Linked DNA regions of Homo sapiens: region 2 is linked to region 1. A link means that fine-mapping ties the variant in region 1 to the expression of a gene that starts in the linked region. Tissue or cell type: blood mononuclear cells. Region 1 holds a variant in brackets; the other region holds the start of a gene. All regions are shown on one strand. Distances are from middle to middle.

Evidence for each region. PIP is the estimated chance that this variant, and not a neighbour inherited with it, causes the effect.
Region 2: CTPS1 starts here. The variant in region 1 is fine-mapped to the expression of CTPS1 in blood mononuclear cells (TOPMed, PIP above 0.99).

What each region holds. Positions count from the first base shown.
Region 1 is chr1:40,951,484-40,959,660 of GRCh38, forward strand. No RefSeq gene overlaps it. Among named protein-coding and RNA genes, the nearest start is that of CTPS1, 24 kb to the right of the region's middle. The variant G/A (reference allele first, on the strand shown) is at 4,566.
Region 2 is chr1:40,976,029-40,984,205 of GRCh38, forward strand. It overlaps CTPS1 (CTP synthase 1), which reads left to right and starts at 3,668. Exons shown (of 19, transcript NM_001905.4): 1 at 3,668-3,801; 2 at 7,250-7,428. The coding sequence starts at 7,263. RefSeq lists silencers at 3,457-3,646, 3,917-4,206, 4,277-4,416 and an enhancer at 4,617-4,666.

The sequences.
Region 1 (8,177 bases):
AGATTGCCCAGGATAACAACGTCTTTTAAAACATGAAACCTCTTGGATAGGAGAGTATTTAAGGTCAACTAAAAACAATAAAAAAAAAATTTAAAGAGAAGAAAACATGAGACCATACTTAGAAGTCACAAGAGCGAACTTCGTGGGACAAAGGCTGAGCCCTTGTGTCAGGTCCCTTCGAGCTGGAGTTCAATAAGAGACTAAGCTCTCCTACTTCTGGGTCTTGGCACAGTTCTCTCTTTTTGAACTGACTGATTAACTGATTGAGACAGGATCTCACTCTGTTAGCCCAGGTTGGAGTGCAGTGGCGAGAATATGATTCACTGTAGCCTCAACTTCCTGAGCTCAAGCAATCCTCCCAACTTAGCCTCCAGAGTAGCTGGGACCACAGGCGCCAGCCACCATGCCAGGCTAATTAAAAAAAAAATTTGTTTTTTAAGAGTCAGGGACTTGCCATGTTGCCCAGTCTGGTCTCAAACTTCTGGGTTCAAGCCATCCTCCCACCTTGGCCTTCCAAAGTGCTGGGATTACAGGTGTGAGCCACTGCACCCAGCCTGTTCTGTCTTTTTGGAATGACTTTCTCTCCCTTTTTTATCTAGTTGACTCCTAGACACTGCCTCCAGGAAGCCTTCTATGCTTGGCCCTTGGCTCCCTTGAGTCAGTGCCTTTCCGCAGCTTGCTGGATCAGTCCTTTGAAGGAACTTGCTATAGTGTGCAGTGTTTTCTTAGACCAGCAACTCTCACCCTTGACACCATCAGAATCACCAGAGGGGCTTGTTAGAACAGAGATTGCTGGCCACGGGCCCCAGAGTGTCTGATTCAGCAGGTCTGCAGTGGGTCCCGAGAATCTGTGCGTCTGCTCATTCACAGGAGATGCCAGGCCTCCTGACCCGGGGAACACACTTTGAGAACCGCTGGCTTAGACCACATGGTCTAGGACAGCAGGGATCTTGCCTATTTGTTCCCCCACTGCACCTCCAGCAGCACCTCACAGTCTCAGCCATTACATGGAAAGACAAAGTCAAATAACAAGACGTAATGTAGAAGATTTCCCAAGGCCTGTGTGCTGAGCACACAGGTCGGGCCCCGGCTGGAGGTGCGAACTGTCTCCGAGAGCGCCAGGTGAGTGCCCAGCGGGAGCAGAACGGGAATGGCAGGAGGCCCGTGCTCTGGGTCAGAGCGCCCTCTGGTGCCAACATCTCAGCTCTGCACCTGGAGCTGAAATTAGGTGACATCAAGGCAGACCCCAACCGACCTCCCAGCCCCTGGTTTTCCCCTCTCAGCCTCGTCCATGTCACCACCAGGAGTAACTTGCTAAAATCCAGCTCTGACCCTACTCGCCTTTGCCCTTCTCCCAGCTTAAGCCCCGCACTTGGCTCTCCACTGCCTTCTGGACAAACCTCAGCATTCAAGGTCCTTGGCTGTCCTCTGGTGACTCTGTTGCTTTCTGTCCTTCAGTATCCTGTGGCTCTCCTCAGGCACTCTTTAATTTGTCCACACCAGGCAGGTCATGGACTTTATGCCTTCTTACAAGCTATTCCTAACAGGACTGCAACCCCACCTTCTCCTCCAGAGAAACTGATCCTTTTTAATGTCAAATGTGGCCTCTTCTGTGAAGCCTTCCTGGATTCTCCCAGGCAGAAGCGATTGTTTCTTCCATTGTGTCTGTATAGCCTAGTGCACAGGCCACTGCGGAGTGGGGTCTGGGTCCTCCTTGAGACCATGAGCTCCTTCGGGCTCCTGACTCAGCTTTGGTGTATCAATAAATGCTGGAATCTACAAAGCTGTTTTCCCTCTTCAAAGCTAAAACCCACTGTCTACTACCTAAGTCTGCATAGATCCTTAGATATTCAATCATTTATTCAACCAGCAAATATACTTGAGGCCTTTCTTCTTCTTCTTCTTTTTTTTTTTTGAGACGGAGTCTCGCTCTGTCGCCCAGGCTGGAGTGCAATGGCGCTATCTCGGCTCACTGCAAGCTCCGCCTCCTGGGTTCATGCCATTCTCCTGCCTCAGCCTCCCCAGCAGCTGGGACTACAGGCACCCACCACCACGCCCGGCTAATTTTTTTTTTTTTTTTGTATTTTTAGTAGAGACGGGGTTTCACCGTGTTAGCCAGGATGGTCTCGATCTCCTGACCTCGTGATCCACCTGCCTCGGCCTCCCAAAGTGCTGGGATTACAGGCGTGAGCCACCGCGCCCAGCCTCTTCTTTTTTTTTTTTTTTTTGATGGAGTTTCAAGCCCAGGCTGGAGTGCAATTGCATGATCTCAGCTCACTGCAACCTCTGCCTCCAGGGTTCAAGCGATTCTCCTGCCTCAGCCTCCCGAGTAGCTGGGATTACAGGCATGTGCCACCATGCCTGGCTAATTTTGTATTTTTAATAGAGACGGGGTTTCTCTATGTTGGTCAGGCTGGTCTCGAACTCCTGACCTCAGGTGATCCGTCTACCTCGGCCTCCCAAAGTGCTGGGATTATACGCATGAGCCACCACACCCGGACAAGGCCTTTCTTCTGGCAGGCATTAATCAATTCCAGTGCAGGGGATACAGAGGAGAATAAAACAAGACGAAGTTCCTGGCCTCTGAGCTTATATTATGGTAGGAGAGAATGACAATAAACAAAATACTGTGTATTAAATACTGTTAAGCCAAGCTGTGCTAAATTGCATAGAGAAATTAAGCAGGGTAAAGGATAGAAGTTGATGGAGTGGTTCTATTTCAGGCAGTGTGGTTAAGAAAATACTCACTGATGGCCGGGCGCAGTGGCTCACACCTGTTATCCCAGCACTCTGGGAGGCCGACGCGGGTGGATCATGAGGTCAAGAGTTCGAGACCAGCCTGGGCAACATGGTGAAACCCTTTCTCTACTAAAAATACACAAATAAGCTGGGCATGGTGGCACACACCTGTAATCCCAGCTACTCAGGAGGCTGAGGCAGGAGAATCACATGAATCCCGGAGGTGGAGGTTGCAGTGAACCAAGATAGGGTCACTGCAATCTAGCCTGGGCGACAAATCGAGACTCGTCTAAAAAAAAAAAGGAAAAAAGAAAATACTCACTGATAAGGTGGCATTTGAGCAAAGACACAAACAAAGTGCAGATGTGAACCGTGCATGTGTCTGGGGGGAGGTATTCCTGCAGCGTGCAAAGTCCCTGTGATAGGAACGTGCTTAGCATGCTCTAGAAACTGCAAGTTGGCTGGTGTTTTAGGTCAGGCGATCTGGAAGCAGACTCTGAGAGGATTCCTGTATAAGTGATTGATTAGTGCTCCCTTAGGGGTAGGGTGGGGAATAACCAGCAAGGGTGTAGGGGAAGCAGGGCAGGGAAGAGGAGGAAGCCAAGCAAGCGTGTGATTTCATGCGAAATCCGGAGGAAGGTAGTCTCACCCTGATCCCACGGGGGTGGGGCGGGGTGGGGTAAGGTAGAGTCGGGTAGGAAGGGGAGCTCTGGCATATAAGTTACACCTCAGTGTTTGTTCCAACCTAAGGCAAGGTTGCTGAGACTTTCAAACTCTCCTCCCATTAACATCTGGCTAGGGTCATCCCAGGGAGCTTTTTCAAGTAAATTCTCAGGCACTTCCTCTGGGCAAAGTGGGCTCCAGTAGCGCCCTATCCAAAGAGCCATAGGTACTAGGTACTAGGTGTTGGGTACTAAGTACTAAATGTTAAGAGAAAAAGCTTAGCAAAGTTGGGGGCACACACAACATGAAGGAAAAGGGGATCTTAAAAGGATCTGGGTAAAATGCTAACAGTACCTGTGAAAGTCAGTGAGGTAGAAGAACAGAAGTCAGAGTAGAATCGTAAGAGAAGAGATAGTCAGCTGAGGCCAGATCAGGTAAATCAATATCTGATTTCACTCAAATAGGCAATGTGCTGAGCTAAAAAATCCACAGCTCTCCTTGCATCTAGGGGCGGCCAGTTCCACATACTCAAATGTCGATAAAAGTCAGCTGGAGGCACCTAAGAAAGCATTCATTTCCTGATAGAGGCACCACATTTTCTTCCTTGCCACTCCCTTCTTTTTGCCTGGAATGTGAACCCGAGGCTGGGGGTAAAGCAGTCATCTTGTAACCATGAGGTCACAGTGAGGCAAATGTGAGAGTAAAAGCTTTGTACTAAGCATGGTGGAGGGGCCTGAGACCCTGGTGATGTTGCAGAGAGGCTGCACTAGCCTGGGACGCCTGTCTCTAGACTTAATATCTTTTTTTGAAAGTTAACAAATCCCTATTCGATGAAGTCTGGCTTTCTGTTACATGCCAGTGGGCATCATCCCTAACCAATACTTCCTCCAAAGAGTTATAGATCTACACAGCCTCCTACATTCTGTGAGAGCACTTGTTCCCACTCAAATGCGCTGGACGTTATAAAGCTTTTTCCAGTTTGCCAATCTTCCACGTGACAAATCCTATCTTGTTTTCTTTCGGTTTTTGTTGTTTTGAGACGGCGTCTCACTCTGTTGCCCCGGCTGGAGTGCAATGGCGCGATCTCGGCTCACTGCAACCTCCGCCTCCCGGGTTCAAGCCATTCTCCTGCCTCAGCCTCTCAAATAGCTGGGATTACAGGC[G/A]CGCGCCACCACGCCCGGCTAATTGTTGTATTTTCAGTAGAGACGGGGTTTCACCATGTTGGTCAGGCTGGTCTCAAACTCCTGACCTCAGGTGTCACCACCCGCCTCGGCCTCCCAAAGTGCTGGGATTACAGGCATAAGCCACCACACCCGGCCTATCTTGTTTTATTGTGAATATGAGTTATGAGTGAGGTTGAGTATTTTTATATGTTTTTTGTGCATTTGTGTTTACGTGAAACTACATGTTTCTGTGCCTTGCCCACTTCCATTTGAAGGCCAAAAAAAAAAAAAAAAAAAAATCACAGCGGGCACTGGCATCTTAAGGGTTCTGAGAATTCCTGCAGCATGCAATGTGCATTTTAACTTTAGCATGGAATTCTCCAAAATTATTTGACCACATAACATATTTTGTCTTGGAAACCCTATTTCTATTAGTTAGGACTGAGCTTTCTAACTGGCATGCCATAAATGAGCCACAAGCATGTTGACCTATTCAACTACTCAAAATTTGACAAGAGCCAAAACATATTTGAACACTGTTAGATAGCTTCCTCTATGAACTTCCTGAATTAGGTAATAATTATTTTGGTGGTTAAGATTTTATTCAAAGCACTTGCCGCCAGAAAGACTTTGTCATGGCCACATTGTCCCACACTCCACAGAATAGTCTGACTATGATCCTAGTCATGATTTGTTTATCTGTTTATCAGCTGCAACTGATAAATTCTTCTTTATTTTGCAAGTACATATAAAATATTGGCTTTTCTTTAACTTAATAATTTTCTCTTATTTTTCTAACATAAAAGTATGGATATTATTATTTAATGTTATGTGTTTCCCTATAGAAAATGAGTTATTTTGGGCAGGGCATGGTGGTGCACGCCTGTAATCCCAGCACTTTGGGAGGCCGAGGCAGGCAAATCACGAGGTCAGGTGTTTGAGACCAGCCTGCCCAACACGGTGAAACCACATCTCTACTAAAAATACAAATATTAGCAGGGCATGGTAGCACACACATGTAGTCCCAGCTACTTAGGAGGCTGAGGCAGGAAAATTGCTTGAACCCAGGAGGTGGAGGTTGCAGTGAGCCAAGATCACACCACTGCACTCCAGCCTGGGCAACAGAGCAAGACTCTGTCTCAAAAAAAAAAAAAGAAAGAAAGAAAAGAAAATGAGTTATGTTGTTAATTTTCTCAATTGCTGTTTCTTGATTGGGGGAGTGTCTGTTCATTTTTAATGTTAACAATGAATACAGTTTGTTTTTTATTTTTTTATTTTTTTTGAGATGGAGTCTGGCTCTGTCACCCAGGCTGGAGTGCAGTGGCATGATCTCAGCTCACTGCAGCTTCCACCTCCCGGGTTCAAGTGATTCTCCTGCCACAGCCTCTCAAGTAGCTGGAATTACAGGCATGCACCACAATGCCCAGCTAATTTTTGTATTTTTAGTAGAGTCAGAGTTTGGCCATGTTGACCAGGCTGGTCTCGAACTTCTGACCTCAAGTGATCTGCCTGCCTCGGCCTCTCAAAGTGCTGGGATTACAGGTGTGAACCACCGCGCCTGGACGCCTACAGTTTGATTCTTGATGGAATTTCAGGATGAGTTATTGTTTGCTTTTAAAAATGAAAAAATGGGGCCGGGCGCGGTGGCTCACGCCTGTAATCCCAGCACTTTGGGAGGCCGAGGCGGGTGGATCACGAGGTCAGGAGGTCGAGACCATCCTGGCTAATACGGTGAAACCCCGTCTCTACTAAAAATACAAAAAAAAATTAGCCGGGCGTGGTAGCGGGCGCCTGTAGTCCCAGCTACTCGGGAGGTTGAGGCAGGAGAATGGCGTGAACCCGGGAGGCGGAGCTTGCAGTGAGCCAAGATAGCGCCACTGCAGTCCAGCCTGGGCAAAAGAGCGAGACTCCGTCTCAAAAAAAAAAAAAAAAGAAAAGAAAAAATGGTCTGGGTGTGGGGGCTCACGCCTGTAATCCCAGCACTTTGGGAGGCCGAGGTGGGCAGATCACTTGAGCCTAGGAGCTGGAGACTAGCCTGGGCAACATGATGAAACCCTGTCTCCACCAAAAAATACAAAAATTAGCCAGGTGTGGTGGTGCACACCTGTAGTCCCAGCTCCTCAGGAGGCTGAGGCGGGAAGATCATTTCAGCCTGGAAAGTGGGGGCTGCAGTGAGCTGTGATTGCACCACTGCACTCCAGCCTGGGCAATGGGAATGAGACCCTGTTTCAAAAAAAAAAAAAGGTTTCTAAAGTTAACATATACCTACTCTGACCCAATGTTTCCAGTTCTAACTATTCATTCAATAGCAACAGGTGCATATGCCCACAAAAAGACATGTGCAAGCATGTGTGTAGCAGCTTTATTCATTACAGCCCCAAACTAGAAACAGCCCAAATGTTCAACAGGTGAATGAATAAAGAAATTGTGGTATATCCATACAATGGAATACTATTTAACAATAAAAAGAAATAAACTTTAGCCATAAGCAACAACAAAGATGGATTTCTCCAACATGATACTGAGAGAAAAAAGCCAAAAAAAAAAGAGTATGTACTATATGATTCCATTGGTGCAAAGTCCTAGAACAGGCAAATCCAACCCACAGTGATAAAAGCCAGATTAGTGGTTATGAGTGAAGAAGTTAAGTCACCTTGCGGAAGGATTGAAATTGTCTCTATTTGAATCTGATACTTTTTTTTTTAGCCAAAAAAAAAAAAAAATCTATAACATAGAGATGTGGTCTTGCTATGTTGCCTAGGCTGGTTTCAAACTCCTGGCCTCAAGCAATCCTCCTGCCTCGGCCTCACAAAGTGTTGGGATTGCAGGTGTGAGCTGCTGCGCCTGGCCTAAATGAGCATTTTGAATAGACTAAGATCTGTGTCCACAATGGATGAGTCTGTGTTTGCAGCAGGTGGCTACCACAACAAGGTATCAAGGTTTCACAAGATCGTTCCAAAAAATCCTGAGATTCAAGCAATACATTTTTTTTCTTTTTGAGACGGAGTCTTGCTCTGTCGCCCAGGCTGGAGTGCAGTGGTGTCATCTCAGCTCACTGCAACCTCCACCTCCCAGGCTCAAGCAGTTCTCCTGCCTCAGCCTCCTGAGTAGCTTGGATTGCAGGCGCGCGCCACCACCCTGACTAATTTTTGTATTTTAGTAGATACCGGGTGTCAGGCCTCTGAGCCCAAGCTAAGCCATCATATCCCCTGTGACCTGCACGTATACATCCAGATGGCCTGAAGCAACTGAGGAACCACAAAAGATGACATTCCACCATTGTGATCTGTTCCTGCCCCACCCTAACTGATCGATTGACTTTATGACAACACATCCTCCTAATGCACTTTGTGATATTCCTCCGCCCTTAAGAAGGTACTTTGTAATATTCTCCCCGCCCTTGAGAATATACTTTGTGAGATCCACCCCCTGACCACAAAAAATTGCTCCTAACTCCACTGCCTATCCCAAACTTATAAGAACTAATGATAATCCCACCACTCTTTGCTGACTCTTTTTTCAGACTCAGTCTGCCTGCACCCAGGTGAAATAAACAGCCCTGTTGCTCACACAAAGCCTGTTGGTGGACTGTCTTCACACAGACGCGCGTGA
Region 2 (8,177 bases), 25 kb after region 1:
GACGTGAGCCACTGCGTCTGGGCCAGATGGTTTTAATGACTAGATAATGACTTTAGAGAGAAGGGATCCTAGAACTGAGGCTTGGGGCAATGTTTATAGTTCAGGATAGAGGAAAAGGAAGAGGATCTAGGTAGGGAGATCTAGAAGGAGAAACCTGTGAAATAGGAAAAAATGAACAGCAAGTGGTTTCCTAGAAGCCAAGTAAAGGACACCCACCTTTTAAGGAGGAAATGATCAGCTGTGACAAATGCTCTTAGGGAAGTGGTCAGTTTGGGGGCAGCTCTGGGGCTGTATAGCTGCACCTAGGAGCCCAAAAGGAGACTGGGCCTATGGTGGGGGAGAGAAGCAGCCCAAATATGTAAATACATACACATGCGCACGTGCACACACACATATGCATTCATGCCATGCACATACAGCCACACTGTTGTCTATTTTTTTTTTTTTTTGAGACGGAGTCTCGCTCGTCGCCCAGGCTGAAGTGCAGTGGTGCAATCTTGGCTCACTGCAACCTCCGCCTCCCAGGTTCAAGTGATTCTCCTGCCTCAGCCTCCTGAGTAGCTGGGACTACAGGCGCCTGCCACCACGTCTGGCTAAGTTTTGTATTTTTAGTAGAGACGGGGTTTCACCATATTTGCAAACTGGTCTCGAACTCCTGACCTTGTGATCCACCCATCTCAGGCTCCCGAAGTGCTGGGATTACAGGCATGAGCCACTGCGCCCAGCCCACTGTTGTCTTTATTTGGGACTTACGGACATTAGAGATTGGAGTCTAGGCTGATGTACAAAGAAGAGGTCTGAGAACATGGAGGTTAATTTTTGACGAGATCAGTTTCAGTGAAATTATATGAGCAAAATATCCAGATTGGAATGAGTTCAAGAGAGGGAAGAAATTGAGACAGCAAAGTACAAACAACATTTTTTAGGAGTTGTGCTGAAAAGTGAAACAGAAATGGAGGGGGAGCTAGAGAATGGCATAGAGTCAGGAGAGGGGTTTTAAGATGGAACAAATTGCAGCATGTTTGCATCACGGTAGTGGAAAAGATCTACTAGACAGGGAAAGACTGATGACGCAGGAAGGGACATTCTACTAGACATTCTTGAGTTGATGAAAGGATATGGCACTTGCATACTAGACATTCTTTGAGTTGACAAATGGATATGGCACTTGGAGCAAAGAGGAGGTTGACCTCTGGGAGTGTGGGCAGTTTGTCCACAGTAACAGGAGACAACGCAGAGCTTGTGCGCAGATAAAAGTGGTTGGTGGATATGAAAAATCTACTGATGGCTTCTATTTTCTCGTGAAATGGGAAGCAAGACCACCAGCTGAGGAGAATATGGGGGAGGAGATGGAAGAGCTTTGAGGAAGAAGACAATGTCAAGTGGTCATTCAGAGGAGTGGTTGGGTGAATGGCTCATTTTTCCATCTCCCATAGCATCTTCATTACCTCAGCAAGTATGTTCTCAGCATCTGTTATGTTCCAGGCACTTTGATAAACATCAAATGCTTCTTGAAAGAAGATGTGGCTGTAGAGTACCTTCAAAGACAACCCAAACTTTTTTTTTTTTTTTTTGAGATAGAGTCTCACTCTGCCCAGGCTGGAGTGCAGTGGTGGGATCCTAGCTCCCATTGGCCTTGAATTCCTGGGTTCAAGCATTCCTCCAGCCTCAGGCTCTGGAGTAGCCAGGACTACAGATGCGTGCCACCATGCTCAGCTAATTTTTGTATTTTTTGTAGAGATGGGGTCTCACTATATTGCCTAGGCTGGTCTTGAACTCCTGGACTCAAGAAATCCTCCCACCCTGTGTCAGCCTCCCAAAGTGTCAGGATCACAAGTGTGAGCCACTATGCCTGGCATTCCAAACATTTTTTAGATTTGGAGCTGAATGCAGCATGGGCAGGTTGTCAGGGTTGAAGCACTGGTGATCCAGATCTGGAAGGAGCCAGAAGCCTCTAAAAGAGGCCACTGCAGGAGCCTCCTGACCTGGTTTCTGGGAATCCATCTGCTTCAATGATTTTCCTAAAACACAAATCTGATCCCATCACATCTTTTTTTTTAAAACTCCTTCAGTGAAGATAGTTAAGAACTTGTGGCAGACTGCTTCTAGAGAACAAAACAGGAACACTGGGGTACAGAAATAAGAGATTTACTTTTCATGGATACCCTTGTGTAGTGTTTGGGGAAAAATTATAACCATGTACATATATTCACTATTCAAAGGAAGGTCAAAAGCCTCTCAAAAGTTTCTACAGCTTTCCACTATCCCTAGGAGAAAGAGAAGCCTTTACTTGGTCTATAATGCTCTTCACCGTATGGCCCTACCCAACTCTTCAACCTAATCTCATGTTAATCTCGCTTCCTGTGGCCCTTGTGGACTTGGCTAGACTGGCCTTCCAATTCAGCTGTGCCGGCCTCTTTGGGCTTGTACACAGGCTTTTCCTTCTGCCTCACTTTTAAAAAAAAATTATTATTACTATTTTTATTTTATTTATTTATTCTTTGAGAAGGAGTCTCGCTCTGTCGCCCAGGCTGGAATGCAGTGGTGCAATCTTGGCTCACTGCAACCTCCACCTCCCAGGTTCAAGCTATTCTCCTGCCTCAGCCTCCTGAGTAGCTGGGACTACAGGCACCCACCACCACGCCCAGCTAATTTTTGTATTTTTAGTAGAGACGGGGTTTCACCATATTGGCGAGGCTGGTCTTGAACTCCTGACCTTGTGATCCGCCTGCCTCGGCCTCCCAAAATGTTGGGATTACAGGTGTGAGCCACTGCGCCCGGCCTACTATTATTATTTTTATAAGAAACGGGGTCTCGCTATGTTACCCAAGTTGGTCTCGAACTGTTGGGCTCAAGCATGTCTCACTTTCTTATCCCCGCCTCTCCCTTTCCCATCTTTGCCGTCTACTTAGGTCTCTGCTTCAAAGTTACTTTTTCAGGGCGGGCTTCCCGCCTGAATTCCCAATCACCACCGGACTTGGGTCAGTCCCCGCGCTGGGCACTCACTGCCCCGGCACCAGCATCTCTGCAGCAAGCACCCATAACAACCATAAAGTGTAATGAGCTGCTCAGTGTGCCTCCCTACATCGTTAGTCCGAGGAGAGGGTCCCTCGGTGCCCAGCACAGTGCGTGGCACAGTCGGTGCTCAGGGAGCGATAGCTAGATGAAACCGTACTTTTCGGGATCCTAGTCCATCCAAAGCAGCCGCCTTCGGGGCAGGTGTGGGGAGGAGGGAGGCCGACGAGGAGCCAACGCCGCGCGACCCTCCGCACTTCCGTCTTGGAGGCCAGGGTGGCGCTGCCGCCGTCCCTCGCCCGGAGGCAGAGATGCGCTGGCGCATCACCGCCAGGAGCCCACAGTGAAAGACCATCGGATGGAAGGCGACGCCCAGAACTCCAGGAGACCGCTGTGGGAGGACGCGAGGCCAGGTGACGAATAGGCCAGGCGTGAGTTCCCAAACAGCCTCCTCCCCTTCAAGAGAGTAAGCTTGGGCCACAGGCTGGGACGGAAGCAGAGGGGCAGACACGCCACCACCCGCCCGGCCTCGAACCTACGGCGGCACAGTTCAGCGGAGGCGGCCCAGCGGTCCTGTCCCGCGCCTGCGCACTCCAGGCCCCGCCCCGCCCCGCGCCCTCCAGGCCCGGCCCGCCCTCCAACCTCTGCGTGCGCACAGCCTAGAGCCCGCCTCCGTGAAAGACTGCCGGGCGCATGCGGTCGGGGTTGTTCACTGGCTGTCCGGGGCTCCGCGCGCGTCGCCGGCCCAGCTCTGTCGCTGACGGGAGGATCTGAAGCCGGCCGCAGGTAGGCTGACTCCAGGGATCCCGGGGGGGATCTGTTCTCCCGCGCAGGAGTCAGCGGCGCGAGCTGAGCCCGGCGCCGAATAGCCCCGCCGCCGCGGTGACGGACGTCGCTCCTACCAATCAGGGGCGAGGTGACTCGGCGTCCTGCCCAATGGGCTGTGTGCCTAACGGGAGTGGGGCGGGCGCCCCGGCCGGCGAGCTGCCGGCTCCCGCGCGCGGGCCTCGTGGCCGGGCGGCGCTGGGGAGAGGGGCCAAGCGGGGCGCGGGGCGGCTTCAGAGGCTGCGGGGCCTGCGCTGCCGCGCTGGGCCGCGCCGAATCAGCTCGGCCGGGCTCGTCGGACGGAGAAGGCCGTAGGGGAGTGGAGCGGCGCCCCCCCCCACACCCTCCGCCCTTGCTCTTCGTCTGCGAGGAAGCCCGGCAGTCGCCCATCCATTCAAGCAGTGCGGGCCTCGGGCCTCCGGCCTCGGCGCGGGCTCAGCCGCCCGGGGCTGGGCGCGGCAGCTCCGCGCCGTAGGACGAGGGGGCCTGCGAACTCGCCGGCCCTGGGCCCCGCGGCTGGCCTTTGGGCCTCACGGCTTCCTCCCTTCCCGGCGGCCGGGGGTCGGGGCGCTGGCGGTGTATAGAGCTCACCACGTTTGCGTGGCGCCCTTCCGTCCACGCTCGTTACAGTTTCGAATCCTCAGCGGCCCTGTGACGCGGGCGGCGCAGAGATTCTCACCCCCATTCCCCTAGGTGAGAACCCGCGTTGCAGGCAGCTCAAGTGACATGATTGAGGTCTGCACACTAGTGATGGGGGCTGGCACTTCATCTCATAACATTGAAAGAAAAAGCATTTCCCCCCTCAGTCTTTGTTGAATTTCTCTGATGCGTCTTGATTTACGTTACTTCTGTGCCGGAAAACCTTCTTGCGCCTTCCGTCACCTTCAGGATTAAGTTCAGATTGGGCATGCCAGTTTGCACATGATCTGGCCCTTGCCTACCTTTCCAGTTTATCTTCCACTGTATATCCCTGCTTCCCCGCCTTCCCCCTCACGGCCTTACCTCTGTTCTCTGTAGCTGCCCTGCACCTGCCTGTTCACCCTGTTCCCTTTCCTGTGCTCTGAGTCGTGCAGTCAGTCCTTCAAGGCCCATTGCAAGTCATATCTACAAAACAGGAGCCGCCTGGATCCGCCCACTACCCCCAGGACTTGTCTCACCTTCCTCTGATGGCCATGGTACTGAAAGCGTCTGCTCTCATCGTCCCCCTTTATAGTCTAAACATGTTTTCTGTCTGCTTCCACCGTCACTGAATTACTCATTTATTTGTTAATGTTTCATCTCTCCAACTGGACTGCCAGAAAGTTGAGATATGGGCCCAAATCTGATTAATGTTTGCAGTCCCCAAGCACAGTAGCTGTCATGTAAGTCAGTAGCCCATAAGGATGAATGAATGAGCCTCCCGCCTGATCTTTATGTACACTGGCATATGTATTGCCAGGCACTGAGACTGCAAGAATCTAAAGAGAGAAACTAAAGAACGTAAAGAGAGATGTTAAACTCTTAGAGTAAAATTGGGACAAATCAAATGTAATTGGATGAGATGAATCTTTTGTAGAAGTAACTCACTCGGTGGCAGAGGAATTTCTAGGATCATCCAAAACTTAGGGAGACCAGGGTATAGTCTCAGTAAGGTATATGTCTGGTTAGAACATATCTAAAATGTACCTAAGACTGATTTTCATGTGTCAATAAGGAACTGTAAAGTGAGAGACTTAGGGTCAGATAAGCTTGGAGACACCGCATACTGTATAGCAGTGATCACAGTGCGAGTTTACTTGCTAAACACTCCCAGGATTCTTGCGTTAAATGACTTGGTTTAATCAGCGTTTCTCTGATTTATATCCATAACACCCTTTTTGAGAATCCCATGTGCATTTTGTTGAAACCAGGGAGCATGCTTTTGGAAATGCTGCAGCAGAGGATGCAAAGAGCCTTTGGAGCGGGGAAGACTTCTGAGCATTCTTCCTTCCCTGCCAAGTGTGTTCTTTCTTGCTCTGGGGAGGGGGTGGGGCGGGGGAATGCTTCGAGCACAACTCCTTAGTTTTCTTGTTCCTTAGTTTATTTTTATCATAATTTGGCTTCACATGGAACGTTCCTGAGGAGGAAAATGTCCTGACCATGCCAAAGTAAGCATTTTCTGCTACTTTCTAATTGTGTTTTTCATTTTGGTCACATTTGGGTTTGCTGACCAAATGGACGATCCTGGACCTCTGAAGCTGGGGACCAGTGATAAATCCTCCGTGGTGAGCCTGTCACGGTCTCCTCACCTCTTGTCGATGCTGTTTTCACCTGCATCTTGACTCTGCTGCCCTTATATCTTATTTCTCCTTTCCCTGCCACCGTGGCACTGCTTTTTGGATTTAATCTCATCTCCCCTCTCTTTGAGTCCTCTGCCCGTCATGTGCTTCAGACTGGTTTCTTATCTGATGTCCCTCTCCCCCAGTATTTACAGTCTCTCTTCATTGCATGCCTGGGAGAGATTTCTGACAAGGAGCAAGTTGTTGTTAAATTATAGAAGAGAACTACTTTTTCTTTTTTTTTGAGGTAGTCTTATTCTGTCGCGCACGCTGGAGTGCAGTGGCATGATCCCAGCTCACTGCAACCTCTGTCTCCTGGGTTCAAGCGATTCTCCTGCCTCAGTCTCCTGAGTAACTGGGACTACAGGCGTGCGCCATCACAGCCGGCTAATTTTTGTATTTTTAGTAGAGATGCGGTTTCCCCATATTGGCCAGGCTGGTCTCGAACTCCTGACCTCAAGTGATCCTCCTGGCTCTGCCTCCCAAAGTGCTGGGATTACAGGCATGAGCCACCATGCCCAGCCAGAGAACTACTTTTAATTAAAGGAATTTTGGTTTAGCTGCAACCACTTTTAAATGTTGATGTTCTTTCCTTTTAGTCTATCTTTTGTAACCTAGAGGAGCTGTGTTTTCTTGATGATATGTTGTAGTTTAGCCAAAGACATTATTTATTTCCTGGAGAACTGGAGTACTTATCCAAGTTTGAATTTTTTTCCCATGTAGGGAAAATAATGAGGCACCTGCCTGGTATCCCAGTGTCTGGCAGTGATGTCAGCAAACATTTGGGGTGTAGTGTTCTATCAGCCAGCTTAGAGCTGGTTTTATTAGGTTGACTCTGAAGGTTATTAGTTGTCAAAGCTTTAAACAAAAGCTGTGTTATTAGAGTAGCAGTTGTTTTTCTACACGTATTTGACTAAAGCCATTCAGTGATCCAAGAAATGTTTGTTTTGATCCTATTTAAACCTGACGAGAACCTTCTGAAGTCCTGTGACAGAGAAACTGAGGCTTCAAGAGGGTTCATAGCTAATAATTGGCAGAGCCAGTGTTTGAACCCAGATGAGTTTGGTTTGTTGAGATACATTTATATCATCTGTAATTTTTCCTTCTTCCAGGTCAAAGAGTAAAATGAAGTACATTCTGGTTACTGGTGGTGTTATATCAGGAATTGGAAAAGGAATCATTGCCAGCAGTGTGGGCACAATACTCAAGTCATGTGGTTTACATGTAACTTCAATCAAAATTGACCCCTACATTAACATTGATGCAGGAACATTCTCTCCTTATGAGCATGGTAAGCACAGTGGATTTCTTCATAATAATTGCATGTGGCAGAACATGTCAGCACTTGGGAATTATGTGCACGGTTTGCATAACTTTTATTTTCTGCCTTCTAACAGGTCCCTTAATACAGCAGAATGATACTTTTCTCACCTAGAAAGGAAGAAGCAGAATTCTTTTTTTTTTTTTTTTTCTTTGAGACAGGATCCCACTCTGTCCCTCAGGCTGGAGTGTAGTGGTGTGATCATGGCTCGCTGCAGCTTCCACCTCCTTGGCTCAAGCGATCCTCTCACCTCAGCCTCCTGAGTAGCTGGGACTACAGGTGTAAATCACCATGCCTGGCTAATTTCTAAATTTTTTGTACAGGTGGGGTTCCACTGTGTTGTCCAGGCTGGTCTTGGGTCCTCCCACCTGTAATCCCAAAGTGCTGGGTTTTATAGGTGTGAGCCACCATGCCCGACTGCCTTTTACTTCTTTGTTGTTATTGAGAACCTGTCAATGGTGTGACATACAGCTGTGGCTGTTACTTCAAAGATTAATTGCTTAAAACTGGGAGAGATGTTAAAACATACCTCTTAAGTTTTAAAATTCTGCATTCGTACTCCTACTCTCTAGCGTTGAGGTGAAAATATGCAAGCATTAAATGTCACTAGTGCAGAAATCCTCGTAACAAATGGCATCAGGAAAAGATCCATATACCTGAGTGATATTTAATACAGAATTCTTGAGCAGAGGATGAGTTATCTCTCTGAGGGAGAAAAT